3 linked regions of the Homo sapiens genome follow. The protein of the gene in region 3 purifies or fractionates together with the protein of the main gene of each other region. This does not show direct contact. Each region holds a gene or a part of one and is shown on either strand. Other genes may lie near its edges. The genes, in order: MACROH2A2, KSR2 and RSBN1L.

Evidence for each region.
Region 1: the proteins of RSBN1L (region 3) and MACROH2A2 purify together in Homo sapiens (co-immunoprecipitation; one large-scale study listed by IntAct). This does not show direct contact.
Region 2: the proteins of RSBN1L (region 3) and KSR2 purify together in Homo sapiens (co-immunoprecipitation; one large-scale study listed by IntAct). This does not show direct contact.

The regions. Positions count from the first base shown.
Region 1 is NC_000010.11:70,108,194-70,111,845, reverse strand, and holds part of MACROH2A2 (core histone macro-H2A.2), read right to left. Parts: intron 2,814-3,652; coding exon 2,639-2,813; intron 329-2,638; coding exon 163-328; 3' UTR 1-162. UniProt on the Homo sapiens protein: Variant histone H2A which replaces conventional H2A in a subset of nucleosomes where it represses transcription. Nucleosomes wrap and compact DNA into chromatin, limiting DNA accessibility to the cellular machineries which require DNA as a template.
Region 2 is NC_000012.12:117,524,862-117,528,513, forward strand, and holds part of KSR2 (kinase suppressor of Ras 2), read right to left. Parts: intron 2,259-3,652; coding exon 2,210-2,258; intron 846-2,209; coding exon of another isoform or gene 837-845; exon of another isoform or gene 713-836; intron 359-712; coding exon 1-358. UniProt on the Homo sapiens protein: Location-regulated scaffold connecting MEK to RAF. Has very low protein kinase activity and can phosphorylate MAP2K1 at several Ser and Thr residues with very low efficiency (in vitro).
Region 3 is NC_000007.14:77,765,836-77,769,487, forward strand, and holds part of RSBN1L (lysine-specific demethylase RSBN1L), read left to right. Parts: intron 1-2,825; coding exon 2,826-2,968; intron 2,969-3,652. UniProt on the Homo sapiens protein: Lysine-specific demethylase that specifically demethylates methylated lysine residues of proteins.

The sequences.
Region 1 (3,652 bases), on a different chromosome or scaffold from region 3:
TTTTGGAGGAGAGTGTGAAGGGCAGAGGGCTCCCTGCGCCGGCAGGACCTGCCCGGCCACCCTCCACTCCCCTGCCATCACCCCTCCTCTCTCCTTTTAAAAAGCAAAACCCCACTCTTGGGACTCGGGTCGTCCTCCGATCCCTGCTGGAAAGTGCGGCGGCTACTTGGCGTCGAGCTTGGCCATCTCCTGCACGTAGATGCCGATGCTCTCGCTGTCGAAGAGCAGGAAGTACACGTTCTTCAGCGAGGACGCGCTCGAGTCATCAAAGTGGGCTGAGATGGCTTTGAGGGTCACCTGGGCCGCAGTCTGTTTGGGAAAGCAGTTTCTGTGCCAAAGCAAAAGAAGAGCCGATGTCATTTTGGTCCCTGGGACCCATGGGAGCATGAAGTGCCTTTGTTTTTACTGGGTGGGGCCTTGCTGTGTGCAGGGCTAGTCCATGCATGATCTCCTTTGACCCTAGCCAAAGGGACAGCCTGGGGGTGGCAGGTGGGGCATGTTGCCCCCACTTTATAGGTGTCACACTGACTCGGAGAGGCACAATGATTTAATTTGATTAAATTAATTTATTTGTTTTGGGATGGAGTCTCTCTCTGTTGCCCAGGCTGGAGTGCAGTGGCGCGATCTCAGCTCACTGCAACCTCCACCTCCCGGGTTCAAGCGATTCTCCTGCCTCAGCATCCCAAGCAGCTGGGACTACAAGTGCGCACCATCATGCCTGGCTAATTTTTGTATTTTTAGTAGAGACGGGGTTTCACCATGTTGGCTAGGCTGGTCTTGAACTCCTGACCTCAGGTGATCCGCCTGCCTCGGCCTCCCAAAGTGCTGGGATTACAGGTGTGAGCCACCGTGCCCTGCCAAGCACAATGATTTTAGTCAAGGTCACAGGGCTGGCCAAGTGAAGAGTGCCCTGTATTTTATTTTTTATTATACTTTTTTTAAATTAGTTTTTTTTTCAGAGGCAAAGTCTTGCTCCATCACTCAGGCTAGAGTGCAGTGGTGTGATCATAGCTCACTGCAGCTTCAAACCTCTGGGCTCAAGCTATCTGTCTTCTGCCTCAGCCTCCTCAGTAGCTGGGACTAAAGGCGTGTGCCTATAAAAAAATTTTTTTTTTTAAATTTTTTGTAGAGATGGGTCTTGTTATGTTGCCCAGGCTGGTCTCGAACTCCTGGCCTCAAATGATCCTCCTGCCTCAGCCTCCTAAAGCTTTTGGATTTACAGGCGTGAGCCACCGTGCCAGCTCCCTATATTTGATTCTATGTCACCTGACCAAGTCAAGCTTGGCTTTAAAAATGCTAGCCATTCAGCATTAAAAATACCTGGTCTTCAAACAAGCAAACAGAAGTTTTATTAGCTCCCTCCAAACTGGTTTATATACTAACCCAATTGCTTAGTAAAGGGCAAAAATGTATGCTCCAAACCTGTCTTCGTAAGTCCTTTTTTATGCACTTAATATTTCATAGGCACAGGCCCATGTAATTTCAGCATTGTGACTCCGGGCATGGCGGGGTTAATGAAAGTTTGTTAAAGGCCCCAGGTTCCAGGGAGCTACTGATAGTGCCATCCACCAGGCTGGGCCACAGCACCAGCTTCCAGGGACACAGCCAGAATGGTCGTTAGGGGTCAGCCACAGAGACCCCTGGAGCAGGTCCAGGAGGGGCCTGTTAATAGGAATTCTTCCCAATCGCATGTATTCCAGCACAGAACAGCACTGCCGTGGTTCCACCGACGAAAGAATGCATCTCACAGCATCTCTGGGCCTGGAATGCTGAGACTCAATGCTGCTTGCCTAGGTTGATGTGTGATTACAGCAGGAACCTAGGTCTCATTATTTTCCTCTTGGGCTTCCCAGGACACAGCTATAAACCATAGCTATATTATAAAGGACAGCTCTCAAGGTGAGAGGGTGTTCAAAATTAAAGCAATAGATTGGCTAGGGGCATGAAGGGAAAGGATATGTTTTATGTGACAGCAGATATCCTCATTATGTATCTGAAACAATGCCCAGCTGGGATCTGTGACAATCCAGTCATTGCCCAGTCTCCTTTTCAGCAATCACTCGGGGACAGATTTTCACTTCTCTGGGTGTATTCATCAAAGCCTCGAACTCCTGGCTCTGCAGTCTCCCAGAGCAGCAACGGAATTCTCTGGGGATTCTGGAGCCAGAGGTCGGAGATGGGGGGCCTGAGATTCTGCATTCTGACATCGGTCACTGCTGCCTATGGACCACACTTTGAGTAGCAAGGCCTTCGAGCCTGGCGTTTTCTGATCATGTGTCCTGGACATGGACAGCTGGTGGGAATATGGACTTTGAACCTGGAAGGCTCTCAAAAAATAACACACCAGCTGGCCTCTGCCTCCCGCTCCTCCCCTGGGCTAGCCTTCCTCCTGGGGCTTTAACATCAAGGAGGCACTGGGGCTGGCCCCAGCCGGGGAAGACCTGCTGCCTAGGAGCCAGTGGGCTCGCTTCCCCATGGTTTCTGAAGGATGAAAACCGGGTTTCCTGCCCTGTCATCTGGTCAGCATACTTGGCTGTGCTGGCAGCCCTTGGCAACACCCAGATCAGATGTAAGTGGGGGAGCAGCTGATTTCCAGGGAAAAAGCCGGAGGAATCAACTCAGGGGAACTGCATCTTACCTGCCGCTGGGGAAAGGCGGGAACGCGACGGACTTTAGCTTCTTGTCCTCCGCCGCTGACAGGCAGTTTTTGATGGTCTCTTCAAGCTGTTCTTCACATTTGTCGGAGCCCCACTGAGGGATGTGACAGTGGATGACAAATTTGGCTGCGAGTCCACTGGATTGGCTGACGGCGGCTGGGACATAGGAGAGAAAATGCCGCGGGTTATTTCCTAAGGTTTCCTAGGTTATAGCCTAACCTCATCAGGTACCTGTTAGATCTGGAGATAAGGCAGTGATAGAGACGTTGGCTGGGCAGCATCCTGTGCTCCTGATGTGGACTATGTTTAACGAGAGCAAGAGCTGGGCTGTATTGCTTTGCACAGTTAGCACAAGCTTTGGGTAGAAGCGTTTAATGCTGCTCTGATGCGCCATTTTCATATGGTCTGCCAAGTAGTCCCTGGGTTGGGCTACCTCCTCACAATGGTTCCTAGTTAAAGGGACACATCAGATCCTCTCTGGTGGCTGTGGCAGGTAAAGTAATGGCATCCCAAAACATCCACGTCCTCCTCCCTGAAACCTGTGGGTGTTCCCGTACATGGCAAAAAGGACTTTGCAGATGTGATTAAGTGAAGGCTCTTGAGATGGGGAGATGATCCTGGACTGTCTGGGTGAGCCTGGGACCTGATAAGAGGGAGGCAAGAAGGTCAAAGGCAGGAGAAGGCCGTGGGATGAAGGAGACAGAGATTGGAACGATGCAGCCAGGAGCCAAGGAATGTTGCAGCTTAGAAGCTGGAAAAGGCAAGGAAGGGATCCTTCCCTGAGCCTCCAGAAGGAACCAGCCCTGCCAACACCTGGATCTTAGACTCTTAAAACTCATTGTGGACTTCTGGCCTCCAGAACTGTAAGAAGACAAATTTGTGTTGTCTGAAGCCACGAACTTTGTGGTAATTTGTTACAGTAGCCACAGGAAATGAATACAGTGGCTTTTATTTTTATTTTTTTATTTTTAGTTTTTTTTTGAGACAGAGTCTTT
Region 2 (3,652 bases), on a different chromosome or scaffold from region 3:
TGGCCAGGTGAGGCGGGCTCATGCAGGCACCCATGAAAAGCACCACGTTCTCATGCCGTGTCTGCCTGTAGGCCATCACCTCCCGCTTGAAGGCCTTGAGCTGGTCCTCGTTGTCCCTCTCAATGTCAATCAGCCGGATGGCCACCTCGCCATGCCAGCGGCCGTGGTACACTTGCCCAAAGCGGCCCTTTCCAATGAGCTCGCCGATCTCCAGCTGCTCAAAGGGGATGTCCCACTCCTGAAGGAAGATGCTGGTCTGGCTGGCCTTGCGTGGGAAGCTCCGGGCCGAGAGGAGGGACAGGTTCATCTCCTCGAAGTCATCCTCTGACTCTTCGGCCTCATCATGGACCTCTTCATTCTGTGGCCGGAGTGGGAGAGAGGTCAGAATTGTGTCTGCCACTGCCCCAGCCTCCCTCATGGTCCTGCTGGGTCCCGTGCACATGCGTAGGTCTGGGCACATCTCTACATGCATTTGGAGCTTGTGCAGACATACGTCCCTCTGTTTCCCCAGCTCTAGAATCTGGTCTAGAATCATACTACAGTGAAGGTGCTGAAAGGGAGATCATGATCATCCACCTCTCTTGTGCTAAATGGGGGGATACTGAGGCTCAGAGAGAAGTGTTATAGGGATCGCCCATTCTAGTTTGCTGGAATCTTCCTGGTTTTAGCACCGAAAGTCCCATATGTTGCCCTGGGAAGTGACTCACTCCAGGTCATGCAGCCAGGCAGAAGAGGGACTAAGATCCAGGTCTCTGGACTTGAATATCCGATGGCCTTCCTATTCTTCCATAGTCTTTTGGTTTGGCTGTTTACGTGCATGTGATAAAGTTGACAGGCTAGACAGGCTAAAACAATGGGTACATCGTGCATCTGCATGTAACACATGACAACTGCCAACATGGAGTATCTTTTGCTTCCCCCAGGGAATTTGGAATTGATGATTCAAAAACTGGGAGAGGTCAGAGCTACAAGCTAGCTGTCTGAGGCTCCTACAGCAGCTGGGAGGGTAGGAGACATGAGAGTGAGGGGTTAACAGAATGGGCTTAACAATCAGACAAAGAGAGCTGAAATCTGGCCTCTGTATGACCTTGAGCCAGTTGCTTTACTTCCCTGAGGCTGCCTTTCCTCATTGTAAAGTGGGGGTAATAAAATCTGCCCCAGGGCCGGTGTGAGGTTTTAGATGAAGGCCTGTTAAGTTCTTTGTACAGACCTGACCATCTGTATTAAACACCGACTGGGAGGCCCGAGAAAATGCAGATTCCTGGGCCCCACCCAGCACTATTGGATCAAAATATCCGCAGGCCAGGACCAGGAATCTGCATTTTTATCATGCACACACACGACTCAGGCGTACTTCGGCGTAACTACCACTAGAGTTAAATGCTCAAGGTGTAGGGACCCACCTTATCAGCATGATATCTAGGGGTGCTTGGGGGCGAATTGCCTCTTGGATTCTCCTGCAGAATTGTGGGAGCAGCAGGTGGCCAGGGCCAGCGGGGATTCCCAGAGACCCTGGGACCTGATGAAACAGCCTGAGAAGGTGGCTTCTTGACTGGGTACAGCTCTTCCTGACCCAAAATACCTGGGCAAGCTGCCCCTGATGGCACATTCAGGAGAAACAATACAGGGGACATTGATTTCTCCCGGGATCATTTTTCAACAACCAAAATAGTCCCAGAAAAGAACACGATTTTCCTTGGAAGCCCTGACTCAATTCCTTTCAGTATGAGACCCAGAGCAGTTGCAGAGCTGAGGGGCCAGGACTCCATGGTTTCCAGCCAGGGCATTTCATGTATTTCTGCAGCCACTTAGGCAGGTGGGAAGAAGCCCCAGAGCATTCTCAACACTTCTAAGCCCAGCATCCCTGAGGCCCCCACCTCTTCCCACATATTCTTTTGAAGGCAGCGGGGCACATCCCCCTTGGTATTCACCCGGCCCTGAGCTGATCTTTCCACTAAGAATGCAAATCTCTTGACAATTTCCACACAACTGGCTTTTCCATGATGCATGCCATATAATGGCCCATTAGACTCAGTGCTGGGAGGGACCACTGCTTGCTAATTGTCCCAGAGTTAGAATATCCATCAGTCAGGGCCACCACAGCCCCCACCTGACCCCAAGCCCTCTGCGTCATCCAAAACGTCAGTCGGCTTTGCCAAGTTCTGGGCAGTCCCTGGAAAATGTCGCTTCACTGCTCTCTGATTCTCACCTCCGACGTTGGCTCCACTTCAATTTGAAGTAATGGATTTCCTTCCAAGCTGTAAAGAAAGAAAAATAAACGTGATCCCTAGGTGAAAAGGCAGGTCTATATATTGAGTTTAGCTATGTACGAAGAATCCCCAGATCGGAGGTCTTTACCACCAAGTCTTTATCTCACATTTCATTTCAACAGGTGTGTCTGAAATAATCCATAACCTCGACACACACACACACACACACAGACACACACACACACACACACACAGACACACACACACACACACACAGACACACACACACACACACAACACAGTGCGCAAGGACCTTGTTTTAAGTTGATTTTCCGGGCTGCTCAGGGCTCATTTTTCTTCATTGCTTTGGTTTCAACTTATCTAGCAGCTTTCTTATAAATTGGCCTAAATGCCCTGGGTAGATAAGTCCTCAGAGCTGTATATGTTTGCCAGGAAAGAATTAATCAGATCTCCGAAGTTCACACAAATTTGGAATTTCTTGGAAGGATCTCAGTGTTCTTGTTTGTCTGTTCATTCATGCATTCATGCGACTATTTAATAGATGTGTGTGCCAGGAACAGTGTTAGGCCCTTGGAGGGATATAGAATTGAAACTGGCACGGCTTCTGACCTTCAGGAATATTGTGTTCCTACTGAAGGAACTAAAGCCAGTATGTAGATACTATGCAGGGAGGCTAAAAGTAATAAGGCCAAAAGTTAGGTGTGAATTGGATAAATGGAGTGTCGTGGGAATTCCAAGATGAGAGAATTACTGGGTGTATTTGAAAGTTCCCAGTGTTTGAGGTAGGTCTTGCCAATCACATGGAATTAGGATGTGTGGAATGAAAATAAAAAGACCATATTGAGCTGGAAGACACAAGTGTGTGTGTGTGTGTGTGTGTGTGTGTGTGTGTGTGTGTGTGTGTGATGCATTCATAAGCTCATGAGCTGCAGTTCTGTTCTTAGTAAGCAAACATGTTGGGTATAGATGCTGGCGGGGCGTCACAATTTGTGTGAGCACTGCATAGGTATTATGGGATGTGCTTTGTGCAGGGTTGTCTTGTGTGCATGTGAGTTGGGTGTACACACAGGATGTTGAGGGGGATGCTGTATGCCGATAGTATAATTGGGTGTGCATTAGAGGTGTGAGGGGACTGTCAAATGCATGTGACATTTGACATGTGATGGATGTTGGGTACAGTGTGCATTAGAGGTATGTTGCAGGGTTTAGACTTGAGGATGTGCATGTGTTTTTGAAGTGCAGCAGGGAGACAGAACTGGGCTATTGAAGGCATGGAAGAGCTGAGACAGGTGAGAAAAAAGAATCACAATGAATACCCCACCCCTCCTTTCCTATTTCCCCAGTAGATTCCCCCTTCCCCATCCTCATTTGGGGGACCTCCCCTATCCTGACCCTCAGATTGCAGGAAGTGGCTGACTCCA
Region 3 (3,652 bases):
AGTGTGTACATGCGACATCTCAGGTTCTAATTGTAATGGCAAAGCTAAGTGGTGGGCCATGAAATAACACCTCTTAACACTTTAGGAAATTAGGTTCCATGTGTTTATCAGCTCTTTGTAAACTAAGTACTAAAGGACTTAAGAAGTACAGGAAGGATTCTACTACAAATGTTTAAGACAAAGGAATGGCAGTTTAGCATTCCTAAACTAAATTCCAGGAAAACTCGCCTGGGAAATTACACACCCATATTTTAGCCATGGCTGTACTTATCTGGGTTGGGCAAGCCCTTTAAACTTTCTGGGCTTCAGTTTCATCATCCATAAAATAACATGTTTAGACAATGTAGCCAAAGGCCCCTCTATTTAATTTATTTTTTTGAGACAGCCTCACTCTCTGCCCAGGCTGGAGTGTAGTGGTGTAATGTGGAGCCCTGACCTCCGTGGGCTTGGATGATCCTCCCACGTCAGCCTCCCAAGTACCTCGGATTACAGGCACATGCCATCATGCCCAGCTAACTTTTGTATTTTTTGTGGAAATGGGGTTTCACCATGTTGCTCAGGCTGGTCTTGAACTCTTGGACTCAAGTGATCCTCCTGTCTTGGCCTTCCAAAGTGCTGGGATTACAGGTGTGAGCCACTGTGCCCACCACCACAGGCCCCTTTAAATAGTTTGTAGCCAGATTCCTTTTTTTTTTTTTTAAAGCCTCTTGATTTTCAAAAAGTATTTCTTATTGTGAGGTGCTAGGGCTATCCCACTGAGAGAGGAATCTCTGAGCTGTGTGGTTAGGTTAATTATTTAATCAGTAACTCAAAGGTCAATGCTGCAAACCTACACTGAAATTCAGGGTCCAGGTAAGCTGTGGAATGTGACAAGATTTCTGATACCACATAATCTATAGGACATCTCTTCTTTTATTACTTCTGTTTGCTTGGTGTTTTTACCCTATATGTACATATATCTTTTTCTTCCCTTTCTCTTTAACCTTGTTCCATTCCTTTTTCTCTTTTCCTTTTAAACTTTTTGTTCCTTTTCTACTTCTCTCTAGTAGTTACATCATGGAATTAGGTTGCATTTATTATTGGACTATATTTAAAAATTACCAAATATTACTTAAATGGTTGCTTCAAGTTTAATTTTCAAAGCACATGAACTAAATGCATTATTTCTCCTTTCCTTTCCTTCCCCTTCCCCTTCCCTTTCCCCTTCCCTTCCCCTTCCCCTTCCCTTTCCCCTTCCCTTCCCCTTCCCCTTCCCTTTCCCTTTCCCTTCCTTTCTTTCGATGGGGTCCTGCTATGTTGCCCAGGCTAGCTTTGAAGTCCTGGGCTCAAGCAGTCCTCCTGCTTCAGCCTCCCAAAGTGCTGTGATTACAGACGTGAGCCACCCACACCCAACCTAAATGCATTGTTTCTAAAGAAATTTGACAAGCCTTTTTGAAAAGGGGGTGTGTGGTGAAATTTTTTTTTTTTTTAATTTTGTTCTCAACATTCCATGGACAGTGGCCCTCAGTTTCCTTCTTCCCTCTCTCTGTCTTTTTTTGTTTGTTTGTTTTTGGTTTCAGATGGAGTCTCGCTGTGTCATCCAGGCTGGAGGGCAGTGGTGCGATCTCGGCTCACTGCAACCTCTGCCTCTCAGGTTCAAGCAATTCTCATGCCTCAGCCTTTCGAGTAGCTGGGATTACAGACACACACTACCATGCTAGGCTAATTTTTTGTATCTTTAGTAGAGATGAGGTTTCTCCATGTTGCCCAGTCTGGTCTCAAACTCCTGAGCTCAGGTGATCTGCCTGCCTCAGCCTCCTGAAGTGTTGGGATTACAGGCCTGAGCCACCGTGCCCGGCCACCGTCTTCTCTTTTCTCTTCCCCTTCCCCTTCACCTCTGTCTCTCGCCTCGCCTCCCCTCCCCTCCCCTCCCCCCTTTTTCCCTCCCCCTTCCCCTCCTCTCCCCCCTCCCCCTTCTCCCTCCCCCTTCCCTTCCTCTGCCCCCTCCCCCCTTCTCCCTCCCCCCTTCTCCCTCCCCCCTCCCTCTCCTTTCATTCTTTGGAGTCTCGTTCTGTCACCAGGCTGGAGTGCAGTGGCGTGATTTCGGCTCACTGCAACCTCCGCCTCCGAGGTTCAAGCGATTCTCCTGCCTCAACCTCCTGAGTAGCTGGGACTACAGGTGCGCGCCACCATGCCCAGCTAATTTTTGTATTTTGTAGAGACGGGGTTTCACCGTGCTGGCCAGGACGGTCTCGATATCTTGATATCTTGACCTTGTGATCCGCCCGCCTCGGCCTCCCAAAGTGCTCGGATTACAGGCGTGAGCCACTGCGCGCCCAGCCTTGTTCTTTCATTTTAAAATACTTTAGTCTCTGGTTTAAGCCAACAACCTCTTCAAGAAACTGCTGAACAGAAATATGTTTTGATTTTGTTTTGTTTTGTTTTTAATTATCATTAATCAAAGAGGTATCCAGTTTTTAAACTTAAATTTAATTGTTCATTTTTATAGATTCTTATGAGAGCACTTGCTTATTTAGTCCGTTAACATCATATGATCTATATGGTAGAAGGAAGAATAACAAATGATGAATATAGTGAATCATACCTCTAGCAGGGTATAGGGACAGAACCATCCAAGCATAATTATTTTCTTGGTGTGTTTGAAACAGTTTTTTGAAGCAAAGTATATCAATATATAGGGATATATTCAATATTATGTATTTCAGATGCTTAAGTATAAAGCTGTGTATGAAAGTGTGTTTGTCAGGGGAACAATATTATTATTAACATACACTTGAAGATACATTTTGAAAATAATTGCAATCTGCATAATTATTTATCTCCAGTGTACACTGCCATGGGGGACGCTATCTAGTCTAAAATTACAGAGTCGAAAAGATAGTGATGATGGTCCCATCATGTGGGTTCGTCCAGGAGAACAAATGATCCCTGTGGCTGATATGCCAAAGTCACCTTTCAAAAGGAAAAGGTATGTTGTATACACATTTTTATTGGAGGGGATGAGTGTTTGTATGTTGGGGTGTGTATGTTAGTTGAAAATTGGAGGAAGGAGGAATGCAAAGTTTAGAGCATAATTGGAATATAAATTTAAAAATAGCGATACATGCTAATACAATTTGTTATAAAACCTAAAATGTAAATAAAGCATGAGAAATGTAGGCAAATGACAAGAAATTGTAATGATGGATGGAAAAAATGTCATAAGATATAAACTATTTTAGAATAAATGTAATATTCAGAACCTATACTAAGAAGACTAAAATGTTTTGTGGAGGATATAAAGTAAGATCAGAACAAATGGAAAGCCCTGCTGTGTTCTGGATTGGATAAAAATGATAGTTCTTTAAAATTTTCTGCATTTCAATTGGACTAACACTTCCAGTCCTGGATAAAATTATTTTAAAATTCATAAGGAAGTAAACTTTTCAGTGAAAGAGAAGATTAGTGAGAGGCAGCTTATGATACAGGATATTAAAAATTACTATAAAGTTCAAATAGATCATTGGAATAAGAGTCCAGAAATAGATCTAAGTATATTGGGAACTTAATATATGAGATAGGTGGGAAGAGGAAGATGTATTTAATGAATAATGCTGGCATATTTGGCTCTCATAAAAACAAAGGCAGAGCCCCTACCTCATACAAGAAGTAA